Linked DNA regions of Homo sapiens: region 2 is linked to region 1. Evidence: fine-mapped expression QTL. A gene starts in region 1. The other region holds a variant in brackets. All regions are shown on one strand. Distances are from middle to middle.

Region 1 (5,393 bases):
GAATGAAGACTTACATAATGATGTTCATTACAGCATTGTTTGTAGTAGCAAATTATTTTAAACAATCTGGAGTGCCAAAATAAATTTTGCAAAGCACAATAAATTCCTATGTAGCTGTTAAAAAAGAATGAGGCATATATGTACTAATGTAGTAATTTGGAAAAATTATTTAAATACTTTGTGTACTAATTTATGTACTATACTAATTTTATATACATGTACTAATTTAGTACATTGTTAATCTATATTTACTAATTTGGAAAAATCTTGGGAAATTTTATGTAAAAGAAAGCAACATTTACAATATTATTTATTATATATAATGTATTATATAATATATTATATATCATATATTATATATTTTATATATATATATAGACACACTCACACATACACACATATTAACCTTTGGGTAGAAAAGCATTAAGGGATACAGGAGATAGACATATTATGCTTTACTAGCCATAGGCTATTTCTGGATATATCCAGCCATTTATCCACTTAATTCAAAAAATATTTATTGAATGACAATGCCTGTTTTAAGCATATAAAGTGTATGGTTAAAATACAGACTATACAAGTGCTCATGCAACTTGCTTTCTAGTGAGAGAGATAATAATAAATATAAATAATAAGGGAATTAATAAATTTATATATGTTATTTATACCCCTCTAACATATATATATTCTTATCCTTACAGGCTGCTTAAGTCTGAGCGAGACTTGAGACTCTGAGCTTCAATGTTCTTAAGAGTAACGTGTGTGTGTGTGTGTGTGTGTGTGTGTGTGTGTGTACTCTAGAGGGAGTAAAATCTGTGGTAAGAGAAAAAAGAGCATGAAATAAGGCTGGAGAGCGCAGGGTGTGTTGAAAATTTAGAGTACTCAAGGTAAGTCTTATTGAAAGAAGTGAAGCCTGTGATACAGAAAATAGCTGGTAATTATGACGTTTTTGATGATGTTTTTAAGAAAAGAACTGAGAATACTGGAACACAGGAATGGAATATTTTCATAATATATTTTTGTATATTGTTTGAAATAATTAACATGTGATTACATAAAGTTTAAAAAGGCCATAAAGTCATTTACACAATTCTGTGTCAATATTGTCATAAGACCTAGACCTGTAGAAGTAAATATTTCTGAGTTTTTCTTACTTTTTCAATTATGCTTTTTTTCCCCAATTATGTTTTAAATCTTATCTTGGCTTAGTAGAAGTCCTGTATTTTCACAGATTCATTGATTTCATCAATCCATTTCAACATATAGGCTGGTAGATGAATGGGTCTCCTGGCTGATGAGGACAGGGTTGTTTTAGGAGCGTAGAAGGAAAACAGGCAAAAGTTTATTTTAATAACACCTGATATTGATTCTGCTTAATTTGCCCTATATGCAAAAGGTAAAATGGATTTAATTAAAGGTAGTCTATTGCACGTATAATGATGATTCAACCATTAATTGTACAACTATAACTGTTATTTAAGTAACAAAATCAAAAAATTTTTTTCATTTGGTACTGGAATTCAGTGCAGCTAGTTGCTCAAATAAAAGCAATAAAGAAAGTATCATGCAGATTGAATTCATGTACCTGTTCTGCTATGTATTAACCAATGCCTTTGGGCAAGTTAAAAAAAAAAAGTCTCTCTAACTCTTTTTTTCCTACTTGCTGGAATATAAAAATTTCTCTAATGTTTATTCTGCTAGCTGGAATTTTAAAAATTACTCTAGTTTGCTTCTGCTAGTTGGAATAGAAATAATTTGATTGGAAGTCAGATAGTCTAGATTTGACTCTTAGTTCTTATCCTTATAGGCTGTTTAAGTTTGAGCAAGACTTTAGACTCAGAGCTTCAATTTTCTCAAGAGTAAAATAAGAATACTGCTACCCACATCACAGGAGTATTTTTTAGTATTAAATGAGATAATCCATGTGGAAAATATTATTATGTAAAAATACTATAAACTTCAGGTCATAAATGGCAGGCTGTTGGCCAAATGTAGCCACAAATATGTTTGAATTGGCTGTCATAGTTTTGGCTTTTAGCAGCGCTGTAAAACAATTTTAATTAGTGGTCAACTTTCAAAGATTTGTTAATTTCACATAAAATATGAACTTTTGAGTTTTCCTTAAAAAGTCATATTAGCTGGCAGTATTGGGTTTGCGTTCTTCATAGCAAAAGCAACAAAATGCAAGTCTGATTCTCACCTTGGAGGGGCTTTGCACTCCCATCGGTTGCACTTCTCATCATTCAATTATCTTTTCCGTGACACTGAAGAAAGAGAGGCTCCGTTTTCCTTGTCTGGTTAGTTTCGTTCACTTGTGTCCTTTTTTTTTTTTTTTTTTTTTTTTTTGAGACGGAGTCTCTCTCTGTCGACAGGCTGGAGTGCAGTGGTACCATCATGGCTCACTGCAACCTCCGCCTCCCGGGTTCAAGTGATTCTCCTGCCTCAGCTTCCGGATTCTCCTGCCTCAGCCTCTGGATTCTCCTGCCTCAGCCTCTGGAATAGCTGGTACTACAGGCGCCCGCCACCATGCCCAACTAATTTTTGTATTTTTAGTAGAGATGGGGTTTCACCATGTTGGCCAGGATGGTCTTGATCTCTTGACCTTGTGATCCACCTGTCCTGGCCTCCCAAAGTGCTGGGATTACAGGCATGAGCCACCACCCCCAGGCCACTTGTGTCTTAATTCCTCTTGATAGTGCATTTTAGTTTGTGTCACCCACCTCTGTAAGTTGAAATACTTTTACCATTTCAGTAACTTGAAAACAAACTGCTCATTTTTCTTCTTTATCAGTTATGAAACTAAATATATAAAATCTTATCCCTAGTCATCCAGGATTGACTGCTCCTTCTTCACAAGGGTCTCTGCAGGTCCCAGTATACCAAACACACAGTATTAATCAATATTCATGGAGTGAATGAAAAAAATGAATGAATGAAAGTGATATATTTGCTACCTTACAGATAACATGTGAGTAGTTCTTTGTTTTAATTTTAACATTTATTAAGCTTTTGCTATCTAGATACAGTTACTGTATCTGAAGTAGAGAAAAATGTTGTTTTTCCGGCTGAGCACCATGGCTTACGCCTGTAATCCCAGCACTTTGGGAGGTCAAGGTGGGTGGATCACCTGAGGTCAGGAGTTTGAGACCAGCCTGACCAACAAGGTGAAACACTGTCTCTACTAAGAATACAAAAATTAGCCAGGTGTGGTGGCATGCACCTGTAGTACCAGCTACTCAGGAGGCTGAGGCAGGAGAATTGCTTGAACCTGGGAGGCAGAGGTTGCAGTGAGCCAAGATCATACCACTGCATTCCAGCCTAGGTGACAGAGCAAGACTCCTTTAAAAAAAAAAAGAGAAAGAGAGAAAGAACGGAAGGAAGGAAGGAAGAAAGAAAGGAAGAGAAAAGTGTTGTGTTATTTTATTTTTACAAAATTTTATTACAGGTTGTCCCCAGATAAGACATGGCCTCAATTATCAGCTAAAATGTACTTGTAAAAATGGTGGCCTTTGCAATTCTGCAGATAGAAGGTCTATCTGTGGCCTTGGGTGGACAGGAAATTATTGTGAAAAAAGCAAGTTGATTCACTGCCTTTTTTCCCTCAATAAAGATCTACTTTAGGCCGGACGCAGTGGCTCACACCTGTAATCCCAGCACTTTGGAAGATTGAGGTGGGCAGATCATGAGGTCAAGAGATCGAGACCAACCTGGCCAATATGGTGAAACCTCGTCTCTACTAAAAATACAAAAATTAGCTGGGCATGGTGGCGGGCGCCTGTAGTCCCAGCTATTCTGGAGGCTGAGGCAGGAGAATTGCTTGAACCCTGGAGGCGGAGGTTGCCGTGAGCTAACATTGCGCCCCTACACTCCAGCCTGCCAACAGAGCAAGACTCCGTCTCAAAAATAAAAAAAGGATCTACTTTTGAGAATACTGTCATTGGTTGATAAAATACAGCAGAAACTTGTGAAGAAGCTATTTTCCAGTAAGCTAATTCAAGTTGTTTAGAACTATAATTGAATATCCAATAAAATTGTTATGTAAATATGATTGATATTGTTACTGAAATATCACATGAAAACTCCTAAACTCCTTAAGTAATTGAAATAGTATTAATGTGAAAGAGCTCCTCTGAGACCTAAACTTAACTCCCCTACCAGCCACTTTTTAAGCCTAAAGAAAGGCTTTGTGGACACCAAATCTACTAAGTCTTGAGTTTCTAGGCATGAAGCTGAAGAATCTCCACCACCTCTGAGGCTTTCAGGCAGGCAAGGCGGAGGATACAGGGCTCTGGGAGAAGCCAGATCACATGAATAAGAATAGGCACAGCTGCAAAGAGGGAAGAGGACCACCCAAAAGTCTCCAAAATTTGTTTCATCAGGAAAAATTTAATCAGTACAGTAGTCCCCCTTTGCCTGTGGTTTACCTGCGGTACAGTACAGTAAGATTTTTGTAAGATTGGCAGAACTCTAAGTACATTGATGTAATTTTTTTATTAGTTACTGTGAATGCCTTATTATGCCTAACTTATGAATTAAACTTTATTATTGTTATGCATGTATAGTGGAAAACGTAGTGTATATAGGGTTCAATGCTATCTGAGCTTTCAGACATCCACTGGGAGTCTTGGAATGTATTCTCCATGGATGGGGGGCCTGCTATACCACTATACATGCATTTTTATTTATAAATGACATTCTTGCACGTCTTGACTAATAAGTATATTATAAAATGTAGATAAATGCTTAAATTGATAAACATGGATAAAATGAATATTGATAGTTGTTCTAATGTTTGTTTTCCTGAACCACAATTTGTTATTTTGTACAACACTGGAAAGCACCAACTTTATTTAGAGCGCACTATTGTAGGAGACATTGTATTTTGGCAGATTACAGAGCAAAGGTTCTGGCAAAGTGTGGATGAGAACATTGTGCTGGAGGCCTAAACTTGAGGCACTCAGAGCAGAAAAAAATTCACAATGTACGTTTACCCAGATGGTTTCAACTGCGGGTGGTGTGACTCTTCCGACTTAGTGAAAATGAGTGTGATTATCTACTCTCCGTCACTACTCGTTCAACTGTCATGAAATTCAACAACATGTTATAGAAGAAACCACATTGCAATGGGCATGGATAAACATGAATGCTAACCCTAGCTCTGCTAATACCATGTGGTCTATCTTTGGGCAGTTCACATCCTCTTTCTGATTTAATTTTCCCATCTGAAAATGAGGGTATTGAGCTGAATAATACCTGACAGTCCTTCCAAATCTAAGATTCAAGGCCATTTTTCATGGGATTTTGAAAAGATGGATATCCTGCCTAATTCATGGGAGATGGCTCTTATCAGTTTTGTGATTTGAGATTACAAAATCAGCTTTTTAAAAACAGAC
Region 2 (5,393 bases), 11 kb after region 1:
CTCTGATCCTTAAACATTGATAAACTGAGTTTCTTCCCAGTCCTGCCTGACCGAGTAGGAAATATGAATCTATTTTCTGTTTCCGTGAGCTGGGCTGGGCTTTCTCCTTATCCTCATAATTCTTCAGAAACAGAACTTGTTAATTCTCTACTGGAAATCAGGCTAAGAGCAAACACCCAGGCCGGGCCTTTTTGGTCAACATTTGGTTAAGCTAACACTTTCTATAATCTTCCATCATTTCTCTTTCTGTTGCAAGCACAGTGTAATTCAATTTAAAGATAGAGTCCTGTAGGACATAGATCAGGGGATCTATGGACCTTCTGACATATTTTAAGAAATGAAACAGTTGAAATTAAAGTCATTTCATTTTCAATAACATAAGCACAAATAATTGTGTTTTCATCCTAAAGGTTAGTCTCCTGTATTGGGCGTTCAGCATGGATGTTGCCTTTTTCTGACCTCAAGACAACTATCCAACTTTCCCTGTGTCCTTCACGATGCAACCACTAAAGCTCTACTGAAGTCTCTAATTCTGAGAAGGCACCTTAAAAATGTAAGTTGCTGTCCTGACTTCTCTTTTCAGTGTTGTCACTAACTTCCTTGACACTCCCACCCTTCTCCTGTTTTCCATTGATGTTCTTACTTTTATCACATAGCATTCTAGCATGGGAAGATATCCCATGGTAAAAAAGAATATTTCACAAGCGTATAATTATCTTATTGAATGCCAAGAAGTAATAGTAAGAACACTGTGTGTTTGAAAAGCATATCTGAATTGCTTTTACTTTAATTTTCTCCCTCATAGAATGCAGGCCAGGCCTGTATGGACCAAACTGTGCTCTCCAGTGTCAGTGTGGTTACATAGCTCACTGCAGCCCTCTCAATGGGAGCTGCACCTGCCTTTTTAAGACAGTGGACCCAACCTGTGAGGAAAGTGGTTCAGATGATCCTCAATATCCAAATACTAACAGCTTTTCAATTGGTGAATAGAATTTTGCAGACTTTCATCCACGGTTTATCATTTTAACTTTGACAGAGAAATGTACTTACTCAGCCATCTTCAGCCCATCCCGACCTGTTGTGGGGTAAATAACAGGATGTCTCAACTTTGTCATCTCCAAGCACAAGTCTCATTCTCTAGCCTAGCCTTCCCAGTGGTTTTTTTGCTGAAGAATATAGCCAATAATAAGAGAATGTTATTTCAGGATCCCAATCTTAGTAATGTTTGGACTAATAAGTGGACCTTTTTTATATGCACAGAAGGTATTTAAATTTGGATGGAAGAACTGCTTTTCAGTTCAGGTTGGACTACACTGAAATATTCACACCTATTCACTGAAGACTTCAGTGGCCATGAAATAGCTGGATCCTCTTTAGAAATATCTAGAATTTCATCTATTTATTCTCAGTATCCTTCTTCATAACAAACTCTGCTCTGGATTGCTAATGTATTGTTTTTCAAACATGACTTTGGTGTGGGAGACTATAAAGACTTTAGCCACCTAATGACGTGCACTTTCATAGTGAAACATCAAAATGTTTAGTGTGTTTTCTCCGTCACTGGCCAGCAGAAAGGAAAAAACTGGGTAGCAGTGACCGAGGCCAGGGCTTAGCCTACTCTGGGGGACACAAATTTCCTATAAATCAGGACCTACTTGTAATCAGTCTTTTAATTCACAGTGGTAATCTTGATTCAAATTGTTCATCATTTAGGACAACTATATAGCCATTTATGAACCTAAGATGAGTACTGTGATAAGCCAAGAAAGATACAGCAATAAATACTATTTTATTTTTGCTCTCAAGTAGTTTATAAGCACTTAAATTTTTCAGACCACTGGTTAATTCACATCAGCAAACAAAACTTTCTTGATTGGAAATGTTGTTTCTCATGTTACCCATGCTTTATTGGGATAAAAATAGAGAATATTACAATTATATGACTGAATATTTGATTTATACAAGATGTATGAGTGGCTTTTAAATCAAAACAGATTTAGGATAGAATTGACTGAAGGATTTATAAAAATACTTTTATCAATTCAGTACAGTTTCTCATCTTAATGATTATCTTTCTAAATCTCAGCACTTTTAACAGAGCAGAGATATAGCTACCTATAATGACCAGCCATGTCAAGCTTAATGTTATTAAATGATATAAGGGAGTTAATGAGATCACTTTCCAAAAAATGTTGTACTTTTTATTTTATTTTTTATTTATTTTATTTTATTTTTTTTTTTTGAGACGGAAGCTCACTCTGTCGCCCAGGCTGGAGTGCAGTGGCGGGATCTCGGGATCTCGGCTCACTGCGAGCTCCGCCTCCCCGGTTAACGCCATTCTCCTGCCTCAGCCTCCCAAGTAGCTGGGACTACAGGCACGTGCCACCATGTTCGCCTAATTTTTTGTATTTTTAGTAGAGATGGGGTTTCACCTTGTTAGCCAGGATGGGCTCAGTCTCCTGACCTCGTGATCCACCCGCCTCGGCCTCCCAAAGTGCTGGGATTACAGGTGTGAGCCACCGCGCCCGGCGTATACTTTTTATTTTCTTAGGGATAGAGTCTCCCTTTGTTGCCCAGACTTGGGTGCAGTGGCATGATCCTAGCTCACTGCAACCTCAGACTCTTGGGCACAAGGAATCCTCCCACCTCAGCCCCCTCAAGTAGCTGGAACTACAGACATGCACTACCATGCCCATCTGATTTTAAAAAATTTGTAGAAACGAAGGTCTCACTATGTCACCCAGGCTGGCCTTGAACTCCAGGCCTCAAATTATCCTCCTGCCTCAACCTTCCAAAGCACTGAGATTACACATGTGAGCCACCACTCCTGGCTTCTCCAAGAGATTATTAATTTAGTTTAGTCTTAAATGAGATAAAATAAATTACCTTTTTTCTCCAGTATTTGGAATTAAAGATTTACATTTCAGTGCATTTTAACCATTTAAATCAGTCATTAATAATCTGTTATTTCAAATCAGCTGAAAACTATTCTTTATTCTGAACGTTTGCCCATTTTCTTTACCTGCTATTGTTGTAGTTTCTCTCAACTATCACCATCTAACCTTCAAAGAGAATAAAGTAAATAAAAGCAGCATTCTCTCTTGGGCTGCCAGCCCCCTCTGGATTTTCTTTATTTCATGACTGTTAAAAAATTATGGCTACAAACAGGGAAAAG[A/G]GAAAGAAATCAGGCTTTTCTTCCTCAGTAGAGACCGTATTTCTATTCAGGCAGATGAGAAAAATCTAGATTTGATAGGAATAAAAATAAGGGATTTATTTTGACTATTCTTTTTGATTTTATATTACTTAACTTTTTATAAGTGAGAAACCATATGTAAAATGTTAAACAAGTTTCTTGGCAAATGGCAGATGTTTCATATATTATCTCCTTTCATCCCCTTTCCACCCAACACTAAAACAAATTGTAGGACCGGGAAAGCAAAGTCAGAGCATGAACCTGTATTTGTGCCATCCCAGGACCCTTTAGACAAATTGAATTTTCATTCTTATACCAGTCAGCATGAACAAGTGCAATTTACTGTAGCCCCTTTTCTGTATAAAAATTTTTATAAGTTGTCTTTCATATTAAAAAATAAAAATGAGAAAATGTTTAAAATCTAGAATATTTCCATTGTACTTTTGGTTATCTTGAAAAATCTTGATAAGCAATGCAGAGTGATCTCTCCTAAAAATACCTCAGTTCTGCTTAAGAACACTAGCAGATATCCTGAATATTATTATATGCAATATTTCATGCATAAACCAACATATAATAAACATTAATCTTAATTCTACAGCTGGAAAATTATGAAATATAGTTTCCTTGAAAATTTATATAATAGAATTTAAAATTTTATTTTTTGTAACTGCCACATTGAAACTGCTTCAAATTAAGAAAACAGTGTACAAAGACCTCACCTTTTTTAAACAAATAAATAAAGGTTGCTGTTCACTTTGGCAGTACATAAGCATTTACCTGAGGTTTTTACATGTAAACCACTATTCAGGTACAGTGAAGTATGATTTGGCTGCCGAGAAATAATTTGCACAAAATGTTAAAGAATCCAACTATTAAGTGAAGTATAATCTAATAGGCATGTCCTCTTTAAGCTAAAGTTTAATGTAAAATTGGAATCCTTGTCATTGGATACAAATATTTTATATATTACTCCTCTACTTTTTCTCCCTGTTTAATCTGTCCTTTAAATGTAAAAATGCTGATCTCCAAAGGAAATGTATCCACTCATAATATTTAACCGATCTAGAAAGGCGCATGTGCTATGATGTTTTAGCCTCTTTCATTTGAAATACAAGATCAGAGTGGGGATTATTATGCTTTTCTGCAATAATATAGCTCAAGTTTAAAGAAAAGTGAGCAGATGTGTGGAAGTATGCTGGCTAATTTGGAGTCTCAATTCAACATGCCTGGGATAAACTATTTCACTATGACACCTAACTTTCCCCTACTCTTTCTAACTTCTACATTCGTTTATTGAGTTTTCCAGATGAGACAGCTACTTGACACAGGTTAAATTACTTTCAGAGAACTTGGAAATCATTCCAAGAGTTAGTGGCAAGAATGGCATTTCCTTTGTTAGAAATAGCAAAGAGGGTTTGGCCTCTCCTGGGCCTCTTTCACCTTGGTTTCTCTAGGACCTGGTAATACAGATGTAGCAAGAATTTAAAAGAGCATTTGATGAAGTGAACAAATAATAGCAACTGTCTACACTCTAGGAGTTATGTATGCAATTCAGTTGAAATAACTTTTCTTAGGTCTGTAATAGAAAAAAAACAAAAAAGTAGCTGAGCTTTTAAAATAGATTTAAAAGACATTCCAAAGCTTTGTCTCTTTTAGCTAATTATGTGAAGACTATTTTCCACTTTTCCTGCTTATATTTTACTTTTTCTAAATAAAAAAACTTAAATATAAATAAAGTCTAAGATATGCATTTAAAAGTGATAGATGCCTCTTTTATGTTCTTCCAAATATTTACAGAGTTTTATCTCTAAATCTTATATCAGGATTACATGAAACACCATTTAATAATTCTTCATTTTAATGTTTGTGTGCTAACAGCTCTAATTTTGAAGAATATTAATTCAAATAACATATATTAACAAATTAGGTGTTTTTCTTCCAACAGAAGTCTTAAAATATATAAAATGTTTTAATATTAATGCCTCCACTTAAAAAAGATATAAGAAAATGTATTAAATATAATTTTTTTGCCAAGACTTCATGAGAAAAATTCAGCAATAGTTCAACAGACAAAACGATTCAGAACTGGATGTTTAGTGCTTAAGTGTTGACAATATTGGTCTCTTGAAACATAGAGTATTGGCTTGTGAATAAAATTCCATATGTGAGATTTGGATGAATTTGGGAGAGAGCATTC

Evidence for each region. PIP is the estimated chance that this variant, and not a neighbour inherited with it, causes the effect.
Region 2: its variant is the best candidate, but not a certain one, in a credible set for the expression of LINC02082 in caudate (GTEx, PIP 0.74).

What each region holds. Positions count from the first base shown.
Region 1 is chr3:168,899,558-168,904,950 of GRCh38, forward strand. LINC02082 (long intergenic non-protein coding RNA 2082) reads left to right here and starts at 2,388. Exons shown (of 5, transcript NR_109989.1): 1 at 2,388-2,422; 2 at 3,809-3,983.
Region 2 is chr3:168,910,262-168,915,654 of GRCh38, forward strand. LINC02082 (long intergenic non-protein coding RNA 2082) reads left to right here. Exons shown (of 5, transcript NR_109989.1): 4 at 411-553. Among named protein-coding and RNA genes, the nearest start is that of LINC02082, 11 kb to the left of the region's middle. The variant A/G (reference allele first, on the strand shown) is at 3,176.